Homo sapiens: one gene and its partner. The protein of the gene in region 1 purifies or fractionates together with the protein of each later gene. This does not show direct contact. Each region holds a gene or a part of one and is shown on either strand. Other genes may lie near its edges.

Evidence for each region.
Region 2: the proteins of TLR7 (region 1) and EPDR1 purify together in Homo sapiens (affinity purification with mass spectrometry; one large-scale study listed by BioGRID and IntAct). This does not show direct contact.

What each region holds. Positions count from the first base shown.
Region 1 is NC_000023.11:12,864,692-12,871,041, reverse strand, and holds the start of TLR7 (toll-like receptor 7 precursor), read right to left. Parts: upstream 3,971-6,350; 5' UTR 3,919-3,970; intron 3,562-3,918; 5' UTR 3,464-3,561; coding exon 3,461-3,463; intron 1-3,460.
Region 2 is NC_000007.14:37,926,054-37,931,101, reverse strand, and holds part of EPDR1 (mammalian ependymin-related protein 1 isoform 1 precursor), read right to left. Parts: intron 1-5,048. UniProt on the Homo sapiens protein: Binds anionic lipids and gangliosides at acidic pH.

The DNA of each region.
Region 1 (6,350 bases):
AGTTGTCTTACATAAATTAGGAACTCAACAGCTATTATGCATCACAACAGTCACCAAAGACCATAGGGCTCTCAAACCTATTTGACCTTATACCTTATCCCTTTGTTTTCTATAAGCCCCGGCCTGACGTACTTTTTCTGTAAAGGGCCAGTTAGTAAATGGTTTAATCTTTGCAGGCCATCAGGTTCTCTGTCACACTACCCAACTCCTTGAATAGTTTGCCATCGTAGTGCAAAAGCACTTATCAACAATAAGTAAACAAATACTCAAACAATAAAACCATTTGTAAACACTGAAACTTGAATGTAACTTTTATATGTCACAAAATAGTAATTTTGCTCTGATATTTTTCAGTCTTTTAAAAACAACAATTAAAAAAAAACCCCTTAGCTCATGAGCTGTACAGCAGGTGGGATATAGCCCATGGGCCATAGTTTGCCAACCCCAGCCCTAAACTTCGGTGAGTTTCGGGGATATACATTATTTATTCTTGGGGTGCAGAGGTACTGGCTGGTTAATCTGTAATGATGATTTTTAATTTTAGTACAGCGTTCCAAATTTTTAAATAATCAGATTGTATTAATTTAATAAATTGATTACTTAATAACCTTTTTTTAGCCATAAAGAAATTTCCTATAGGTTAAGAGCAGAATAATATTTTTACTTTTAAATTTGCTGAACCACTATTGACATTTTGGGAGATGGTCCCTTCTAATAGTAATTTCCCATCCCTGCATCTATTTCACATGGTGAGAAGCATTCTAGTAACAGCCAAGGCTTTGTCAGTACAAAAATTTGGTTTTAAGTCCTTGTTCTGTCATGTAAGAGCTCTCTGACTTTCATAAATCACTTGACCTCATGAGCCTCTGATTTGCCAACTGTAAAATGGTTATAAAGTAGGGATGTTGAATGAAATTAGAATATGCAACACATGTGTTTATGTAAACCATCATCACAGATTATCCAACATTTAGTGAGCATCTAGTATTTGCCTAGCAGGTGCAGTAAAAACATGAGGAATACACGGTACTTATCCATTTCTAGCTTGCTTTTTTCATTTAACATTATACCATGAGTGCTTTCTTAGGTCATTCAGTATTATTTTAAAAAACATGATTTGATGATTACATAATATTCCATTTAATGAGTCTACTACAATTAATTCACCCCTTCCCAACATGGGACATGATTTTTTTTTTTTTTTTTTTTTTGCCTGGCTGCACTGACCATCTTGGTAAATAGTTTTCCATGTCCACGATCACTTCTTTTGTTTTTTTAAAATTATTTTATTGCTTGTTTTTTTAAGTTCTGGGGTACATGTGCAGGATGTGCAGGTTTGTTACATAGTTAAACGTGCCATGGTGGTTTGCTGCACAGATCAACCCATCACCTAGGTATTAAGCCCAGCATGCATTAGCTTTTTACCCTAATGCTCTCTCCTGCCCCACCCTCCTCCTACAGGCCTCAGTGAGTGTTGTTCCCCTCCCTGTGTCCATGTGTTCTCACTGTTCAGCTCCCACTTATAAGTGAGAACATGCGGTGTTTGGTTTTTTGTTCCTGTGTTAGTTTGCTGAGGATAATGGCTTCCAGCTTCATCAATGTCCCTGCAAAGGACATGATCTCATTCCTTTTTATGGCTGCATAGTATTCCATGGTGTATATGTGCCACATTTTTTTATCCAGTCTCATGGTCACTTCTTTAAGAAGAGTTTCTAAAAGTGTAATCTCTAGATCAAAGGATCTGCCATATGACTCAATACAGTTGAATATTTTCCCTGTGCTTTTTTGCCTTTTGAATTTCTTATATTGAAAATTATTTTCACGTCTTTTCTTAGAAAAGATATACTATTTCCCCTTTGTACTTGAGTAGGAAGCCATCATATCCAACCTCATCTTTATTGCGTGTGTGCTGGGCTTGGTCTAGGAAGAACAGAAGAGTCTTCAGCACAGCTTTCAGAGCCACCCAAGCTCCTTAACCTCTCAAAGCCCCAGTTTCGTTATCTCTACCTTATAGGGCTACTTTGAGGCCAAAATAGAATCATGTCTATCTAGCCCTCAGCATGATAGTTGAGTGGTCAAGAAATGTGAGCTCTCTGTATTACTATCATTCCCATTATGCCACCCATCAAGGGGCAAAGACAGATGTGGGCATAGGTTTGCATTAAAATAGACATCTGGGTTTCTAGGAAATGAAACCGTAAGCAGTTGTTTCCTTTGTAACAATAGCCCCATGGTTAATGCTTCATTAGAACTTTGACACAAAATGAGCCTAGGAGCTAACATTCGGATCTAGAATGTGTCTGATTTAAGTGACAAAATAATTTCAGAAAAAGGCCCTTGACGTCTTTTTCCGACTAAGTTTTGGCATACCTAATAACTCACACTTGCATCATACCACTTGCAAAGGACTTGAAAAATAGTCTATTATTTGAGCCTCACAGTGGCCCTGGAAGGCAACAGGGGAGGGATTCTAATGCCTATTTCATAGTCAGAGAAATTGAGTTTCAGAGGACTTTGATGACAGGCACAAGGCCCCCCCAACTAGTGACTGGGAGAGCCAGCGCTGACAAAGACTCTCCTTAATTCAACTTAATCAGGCTCTACTACACCCCTAGGCTTCGGCCTTTGGCTTCATGTCCATCTTTGCATTGCCCAGTTCAAGCAGGAATCCTGCTAAGTCATTTTATTGATAATCCACTCCTCTTGGTATGTGATCACCCTCAATATCTGATCAAATTCCTCATCTCCCACCATCCACAGGTGAGGTCTGATCACCCTGGCCTGTCTTCAGCAAGAATCCTGTCAGGTCGGTTTAGCCAGAATCCTTTTACCCTTGATGTTTCCTCTTAGTAATTTTCCATCCACTGACCCCCACTCTACTCCTTGGCCAGAAATCTTTACTGGTCTTTGGCTGTATTTGGAATTGAGCCCCTTTCTATACTGAGGTCTCTTTCTGCCGATTGCAATAGTCCTGATAGTATCTTTATCTACTGTCCAAATTTAGTTTTCTTTGACAGCACTCAAGCCCGGGGATTTCCCGTATTTTATTGCTATGAGCCTGCCCACACACTTTCATCCACACAGTCATTAAGACAACACCATATGCTGGAAAAAGCACAAAGTAACTTCAGTAATTCAGTGATTTGTTATGGCTTTAAAGCCAAAATTGTAGGCTGAAGAAATGAGATACATAGAAGCTATGTCCCCAATTCAAACATCTGCTCCTCCTCCCCACAGCACATATTTAATTCTTGTAGGAAGTTGAACAGAGCAAGCGTTGATTAATCTGAAATTGTGACATGCCCCCTTCATTAATGCCAATTGTGAAATATCAGGAAGCACTTTCCCCCAGCAAATAACCTAAGTACAGATTCTTCAATATTGCTCTTGCCAGCTGGTTTCAGTTGTTTCCACAAAGATTACAGATAACACTTTTTAAGGTTCTCTGAGCTGTTCTTACCATTTTTAGTCTTCTTCCAAAATGGAATGTAGAGGTCTGGTTGAAGAGAGCAGAGCATGAGAGGTGCCAAGATCAGCTTGAGATGGGCCCAATAGCATCAACTAAGAGAAAGAGAAGACATCAAAGTTTACATTTCAAAGACAGCACAATACTGTAGCTTAAAGACATGCTAGGATCATTGCTTTAAAATGCGTTTGAAACATCTATTTACAGTATTTACTTCCTCAAAGTTAGGTAGACTGGAGACATATTCCAGAAAACCATTTCTAACGTTACTGAAAGCCTAACTTTATCTTTGAAGAATTGACATTTTAGACTACCACATTTTTTATTTATATTCTAAAAAAAATTTTTGTGCATATGATTTCGGTTCCCTCTTCTCTCCTCCCCACTTCCTTATAACAGCACATACATCTACCTACTTAAATTATCTATATGTGTTCCAATGTTTAAAATACCTTTCTTGATGGCATGGAGTGATCCTATATCTGGAGTCTTCTGAGATGAAGTGATGGGAGGCAGGAAGTGTAGTCACAAAGACTACAGGCAGCCAGCCCTGGAGTTTCCAACTACAAAGATCAGGTCGGGGGATGGGGAGGAGCATGATTATTTAAGCCACCCCAGATATGGGCTTTGCAAAAGCACGGGGTTCCTCTTATTTCTATCACCACTATTGGGGCAACGTCTTGTCTAAATCCAAACAACTCTGTAGACCAAATTTCTTTCGTTTTTATAGCAGGGTTTCTCACCCTCAGCACTATTTACATTTTTGACCAGATAATTCTCTGTTGCACCATAGGATATTTGGTAGCACCCTTGCTCTATACCCACTAGATGCCAATAGCACTGCCCCCTTCCAGTTATGACAATCACAGATGTCTCCAGACATTGCAAATTATCCCCTAAGGGGCAAAAACACCCCGGGTTGAGAACCACTGTTCTATAGATATATTAGAGACATATCTAAATTTACCTTATTCTGTCTTAGACCCAGCTGGAAAGGATGCTGGTTTTTAAGCAGTGGCAAAGCTACCAGTTGGTTCACTCACTTTCCTCTAAAAAAGTTCAGCTGCATTTGCTTCTCAAAGTGTGGGCCCCAAGAGAATTGTTCCTTTCTTAACTGATTATTGGACATTTTGTAGATAGAGCCAAAATATGGTAGTTATGTTTAAAGTTCTTTAATCTACTTAGTCCACCTGGAGAGAATTTGGATGATGTAGAGTGTGGCACGGGGACTTCTGCAGATAATGATCAGGGTTAACATATACTGGGCTGAAAACTCAATGGTGCAATAGAGCAGCTCAAAAACCAGATACAGTAATAAGTGACATTTATTGAGGGTTTTTTATGAGCCAGACACTGTTTTAATGACTTTATATGTATTATCTCATTAAATACTAAAACTATATAAAATAGAGATCTTATTACCCATTTTTTACAAATACTGGAATTTATAACAGAAGAAATATTGGATTTGCCTCAAGTCACATAGCAAGTGATACCCACACAGGCAGTAAAAACCAAATGTCTCCTTATTAAACCACTCTGCTATGCAACGATATGTAAAAATCAATAGTTTTCTCATACATAAATAATTACTGATCCAAATTGGTAATAGAAGAAGAGGTCCCATTCAAATCAGTGAGATCTGAAATGCTTTGGAAGAAAACTGATGGGAAATGCACAAGAACTAAGGTGGTGGGGGGAGGATGGGGACTATAATGCTTTACCTGGCAGGTGCAAGCTTTCTCTTTGCCCCACCAGACCCACTGTCTCAGCCTTTTATCCTGTTCTGTGTCTCTGGAGGCTGAGCTATATGTGCTTCATCAGTAGCCCCTTGCTCGCTGGCTTCTGGTTGGGTTTGGCCAATAGGAGGCCGTGGTTGGAAACTGAAGGGCAGGAAGAGGGAGAGCAGAGCCTGCCTCCCTCTGGCTCCCTCCGCCTGGCCCTGCGTTGGCTGCAGTCCTCTAATGAAGCTCTTGTTTGGTGATGCTCTCCTCCCTGAATTCCAGTAATCGTTCCTTCTCCTTCAGCCTGAGGTCGGAAAGACTCCCCTCTGAAGTGTTGCATCATCCTTTCTTACTTCCTTAAATCCTGTCCAAATATATAAATAGTCACTTTGCTGAACTCATCAGTTTCTCACTTTAACATGCCGTCTGTTTCCTGGCAGGACCCTGCCCAGACACAAAGATATAAGTAAATGAAGAGAAATAATTGTTATTGGGGCTAGAGGCCACAATATTGTAAAAATAGAAATGTTGCTTAAATTGATTTGCAAATGCTGTGTGATCCCAATCAAATACCAATAGGATTTCATGTGATACTTGCCAGACTGATTCTAAACTGGGGTGCATTTTGGAAATCAGCTGGGCCTTTTTGTTTATCATGAAGACTGGGGTTACATTATCCACAAATATCTCCTTTCATATAACAAAGGGTGCATTACCAAATATTTGTTATAAAAGTGAGGTGTTGGGTCTGACTGGGGTAAGACCACATGTGAGAATAGCCAGGCAATTTCTGAATGAAAATAAAAGGGGAGGATTTCTCTTCCATATCTGTAAATGCATTAGAATGCTGTATTGCCTCCAATGGCATAGTACCAGTGCATCAGTGAAACTGAGAAGTGAGCAGAATTAAGTAAAAGCACATATGGGTGTTTAGTTTCAAGTCACATCAATGGCAAAATGGATTATTGGGCAACTGGCTTGGAGTTTTTAAAAAATCAAGCTATTGTCCAACCTCATTTGTCTTTTTATTTATTTTTTGAGATGTAGTCTCACTCTGTCACCCAGGCTGGAGTGCAGTGGCGCAATCTCTGCTCACTGCAACCTCCACCTCCCAGGTTCAAGCGATTCTCCTGCCTCAGCCTCCCGAGTAGCTGGGATTA
Region 2 (5,048 bases), on another chromosome or scaffold:
AATCTCTGAAAGTATGCAACCTTAGTGTCTTCTCTGAAAAAAAAAATTGAATAATTTCTCTAGCTGACTAAAACATGAATTGAAATAAAGGTAAATACGAAAATTAGTATAAAATAAATTGCAGTGAACTATGAAAGGAGTAAAATGGCTTGTTTCTCTAAAACAGAAGACCTTGTGACAAAGCTCCTTATAAACTTATGCAAACACACACACTATAAAAATTCCTCTGTGTTTTAACAACTGCAGAAATTGACCTTTTTGAGGCTTGATTCAGCATGATGAAAGAGGACTACAAACCACCAAAACACTTCAAATTCTTTTCAATATACTAAGTGGAACCTAAATAAATACTTGTCCTGTGCAAAAGGAACTGTGTTCTGATGTCCGAGAAGTGGATTCCCAAGCTTCATTTCCTAACTCCTTAAGGAGAGTTGAGACCTCAGAAGGGTGAGATCTCTGGGGTCCAAGGGTAAGCCAGGCCGTGCCTGAAGCTGGGCTAGGATGAGAATTTCTATTCAAAAGGACAGGGTGTGTGACAAGGGACAGGTGGAGGGCTTGACTGTGAGAAGAAGAACTCCCACACCTACAGGAAACACAATCCATGCCAAGATACAGCACCTGATGTGGCATTTCCAATGGATATGAAGTCTGGGGCAGATTCTCTTCCCCCATCCTTCACTCCCAAGAGTGCCTGCTGGTACTCAGATACTCCTCATAAGTTATATGTTACCTATTGCTGACAATGCTGCGTCAGGCAGAGCTGTGCCCTTGGCCCTGCACCACCGGCTTCCCATCTGCCACTGTCTTCCCTGGTGGCTTCTGAGATGCTCTGGAGCAGCGTCTTCCCTGAGAGAGCTGGGGCTGTGACTCTGGTGCCTCTTCCAAGGTGAGCTTTTGGCTGTCACTCATCGGCAGGGCCCACATTCTAGAACTCTACCAGAAGATCTAACTTTAAGCCACAACAAAAGCAGCCTTCTGTGAGCGGGCAGGAGTCATCCAAGGCATGTATATCCTTTTCCTCCAGGAGAAGTTGCCTTCTTTAGGGGAGCCATCATCCCAAGAGTTTCTCCTTTCTTTGGGGGGACTGAGGGTAACTTAGGCACCCTGCTAAGGATCTGATTCCTCTTCAGATGGCCTCCCGACTCAAAAAGGCACTGCTTCTGAGAAACTGTGGGTGCTTTAGAAATAAATCTCAAATGCCCACATTGGGTGAAATTCCCCAAAATTGAAATTGAGGCACAAGAGAGACACTGAAGACAGTGTTTGATGAGAGGGCAGTGGGGGAGTGGCTCATGGGCGAAAGGAGTTTGGGGCATCCACTCTCTGGAGGTGGTGGTGTGCCCTCCACTTCAACCCTACTGGAAAACTTTTCAAAACACTGCAGTGTAATTCGATGTCAAAAATCATTCTTAACAGAAAAGAGGTATAACGTAACATATAAATGAAAAACCATGAAACCATTACATAAATCTATCATTTTATTGTCTAAGAAATTTAATTATAAGGAAAAAAGGAAAGAAAATACATATCTATTATTTAGGTATCCTTCTACAATGAATGTATATTATCAGTTATTCATTTCCCTCATTCACTGATTCAAAAAAAAATAAAAATTAGTCAGGCCCTGCTCTTAGCAGTTAGAAAATGGAGCTTGGGAATCGCCTTCTCCGACATCAGAACACAGCTCTTTTCATATGGGACAAGTATTCGTTTAGGTCCCACATAGTATGTTGAAAAGAATGTAAAGTGTTCTGAGGAGTTAGAGACACAGCAACAACCATACAAAACCCCTGGCCTTACGGAGCCTTATTGTGCATGAGGGAAGGTGGGGGAGATGAAGGAACAAACTTTAACGTTAAACACTCTGCCAGATAGTCATAAGTGCCTTGGATATATTAATATAAAGCAGTGAGGGGGCACTGAGAATGTTGAGCAGAGAAACAGTTCAATTTGGGAGTAAGTCATGCAGCTTCTTAGGAAAAAGTCTTTCTAGGCAGAGGGAATGACAGATTCAAGTGCCAATGGGGTCAGCGTGCTGAGGCCAGGTCCACAATGAGTGAGCTGGTGACAGAGATAAGGTAGGGAAAAGGCTGGGGAGCAGATCCTGAGCCAAGAAGTGGCATGACGTATTTTCAAGAGAACCCCTGGGGTTTCTATGTGGAGAACAGACTAAAGGGAGCAAGGTCCGAAGTGGGGACAACTGTTAGGAGGCTATCATAAACATCCAGCCGAGACATAATAAAAGTTTGGGCCAGAATAACAGTAGAGGTATGGTCAGATTCAGTATATATCAAAATTAGGGTATAGGTAGGAACATAAAGAGATGAGAGCCTGAGCCCTGGGAGAGTCCACTATTAGCAGTCCAGAGAAGAGCAGAAAGAGCAAAAAGGCTTGAGGAGAGGAAATAAGGTGGGAGAAGGAAAACCAGAAGACTAGCATGTTGAAAGCCAAGTGAAGACAGTGCATCAAGATTGGGGAATTAATCTACAATAAGATGAGGACTGATCAAAGATTGGTTGATTAGTAATGTAGAGCTTCTTGCTTTTGACCAGAGTATTTTCAATAGAATGGTGACAAAAGTGATTGGAGGGTGTTCAAGAGAGCATGGGAGTACAAAAATTGTAGTTAGCATGAGATTTGCTTTAAATAGAAGAGGAGAATGAGATTTCAGCTGGTAAGATCAAGAGAAGTTTTTTTTTTTTATTTAAAGATGGGTAAAATAAAAGAAAATGTTAAGGGGGAAAATAGAAATTTTTTACTGGAATTGGTGAAATCTAAGACTATCATATTTATTCCAGGAAAAACAAACCACTAATTGGTGGAATATTTTCAGATCTTTGGGCACTTTGCCCCTGACCACCATCCTCAAGGTCAGAATCAGGAAGAAACAGCTCAAGGTTATTGGAGAAAGTAAAGATGTTTTCAAAGCAGTATAGTGACCACCTCTGGCTTCCATTCGTAAATTTGTCTTACATTCCATCAGCCTCCTTACTCTCCTGGGCTTATCTTCTTTGGATCTTTTTTCCCCAGTGCCTGCTTCTCCCTCCCCATCTCAGCATTAATTGTCTGAAATCCAGGGTCTATAGACACACTGAATTAAGTCCCTTAAATCAAACTTTGTGTGCTTCCAAGAAAATCTGTTTCTTGAAGAAAAACTCAAATATTGCGAAACTCAAGTATTGCAAATCAGTATGGTTTATTCTTTGAGGATCAGGAGGCCACAAGCAGTCAAGACTTCCTCAGCTCACAAAAGAATATGCTATCTCCAGCCATCTGAGACCAAAATGATGGAGTAAAGGTCAAAGGAGAAGTCATGCTCTTAATATTCACAAAGTCGTGATTTCTTAAAATGAAAATCCAATCCATGCAAGACAAGATTCATGATCAAATAGATTTATTGAGCACTTTATATTAGTCTGCCTCCCCCAGTCACACAGAAACACCCTCTGAGGATTTGTAATGATGACATACTGAGAATCCAAAAGCAATACAAACATATGTTAAGAACATAATTTCATCTACTCCTTTCTCTTGAACAATTTAGACTAAAGCCACTAGGTAGGACCAAGGAAGATAGGCTTCTACATGGGCTGGCCTGGAGCGCAGAGCCCATGTGTGAAGGAGACAGCGTAATGATACATGACTGGTTACCTACTGCAATTGAATAGTAAGCCAGTTTTCTCACTGGCTGAGAAGGGAGTAGCAAAAATGAAAGGAAAAAAAAAACTAGAATGAACCATGTAGTGTTGGATTAGAATGAAGGCATCAGTTTAAACACCTGTATGGATTAGAACTGGAGGTTCAGAAATAAATATAGATGTAAATGTGTATATATGTATGAGTGTGTGTGGGGAGGGATGTGTGTATTCAAACTTAACACCCCTTGCTTTGTCCATTGAGAGGACCTGGTAGCAGTGCCACCTGATAGCACTGAGCATGACCAGAGCACAGGTTCTAACTTCCACATATTATTCTCCAGGAAAAGTAACCAGGGCTTCTTGAAAAATGGTTTATCCTAGGACTGGGGCAGGAAAAGTATAGATGATCTTGAAATATCTTGCTGTGCCGGAAAGCAAGGAAGTGCCCAAACACATCAAAAGAACATAGAAACCAATTTGAAGAGGCTTCCACTGGCCAAATCTAGGACATTATGAACAGCAAAGTAAACAACGAGAGCAAATAGAACAAAATTAGAAGGCTTGAGTCCACACTGATACAAATAAAGTATAATTCAGAAGATTAATGAAGAATGGGATATGTACATGGTTTTAAAATATTTCCCTACCAAATCTTACTAATTAAAAAGAAAAAATGTATCATTTCACAGTGAAGAAGGCTGGCAGACAACAGTCAATCAGGTGATCAAAGTGAACATCAGGATGCAATTGGAACAGAGTATTATCCCTGATATTCCTGCCAAAGGTAAGTAACTTGAATCTAATTATGAGGAAACATCAGACAAACCCAAATCAAGGAACATTCTACAAAATAACTGGCCTGCAATCTTTAAAAGCACTAAAGTGCAAGGAAGACTTAGGAACTATTCCAGACAGAAAGAGACCACAGAGACACCACACTTAAGTGTAATGCTTGCATTTAAATCTTTTTTTTTTTTTTTTTTTTGCTATGAAGAACATACAAAGAACAACTGGCAAAACATGAATGACACCTGAATTTCAGATGGTCAAAATGAACTGGTGTTAATCTCCTGACTTTTATGGTTGTATTGTGGTTATGCAGGAGAATGTCCTTGCTGGGAGGAAATACACTGAAGCATTTGGGGATCGTGGGTATATCAGTTTGGCAACTTACTATCAAACAGTTCAGGCGAGGGGGAAGCTCTTTGTATTATAATTGCAACTTTTCTGTAGGTGTGAGATTGTTTCAAAATAAAACAAAATTATGTATTTGAAAAATAATCCTCATCCTCCTTTCCAAACACATAAGATTACTGAAGTTACCTTAGGTGATAGCAGCCCTGGGAATTAATCATCCACAGCTGATACTTGGACCAACACCCCTATAAGCAACACTATTCCATTCTTAGT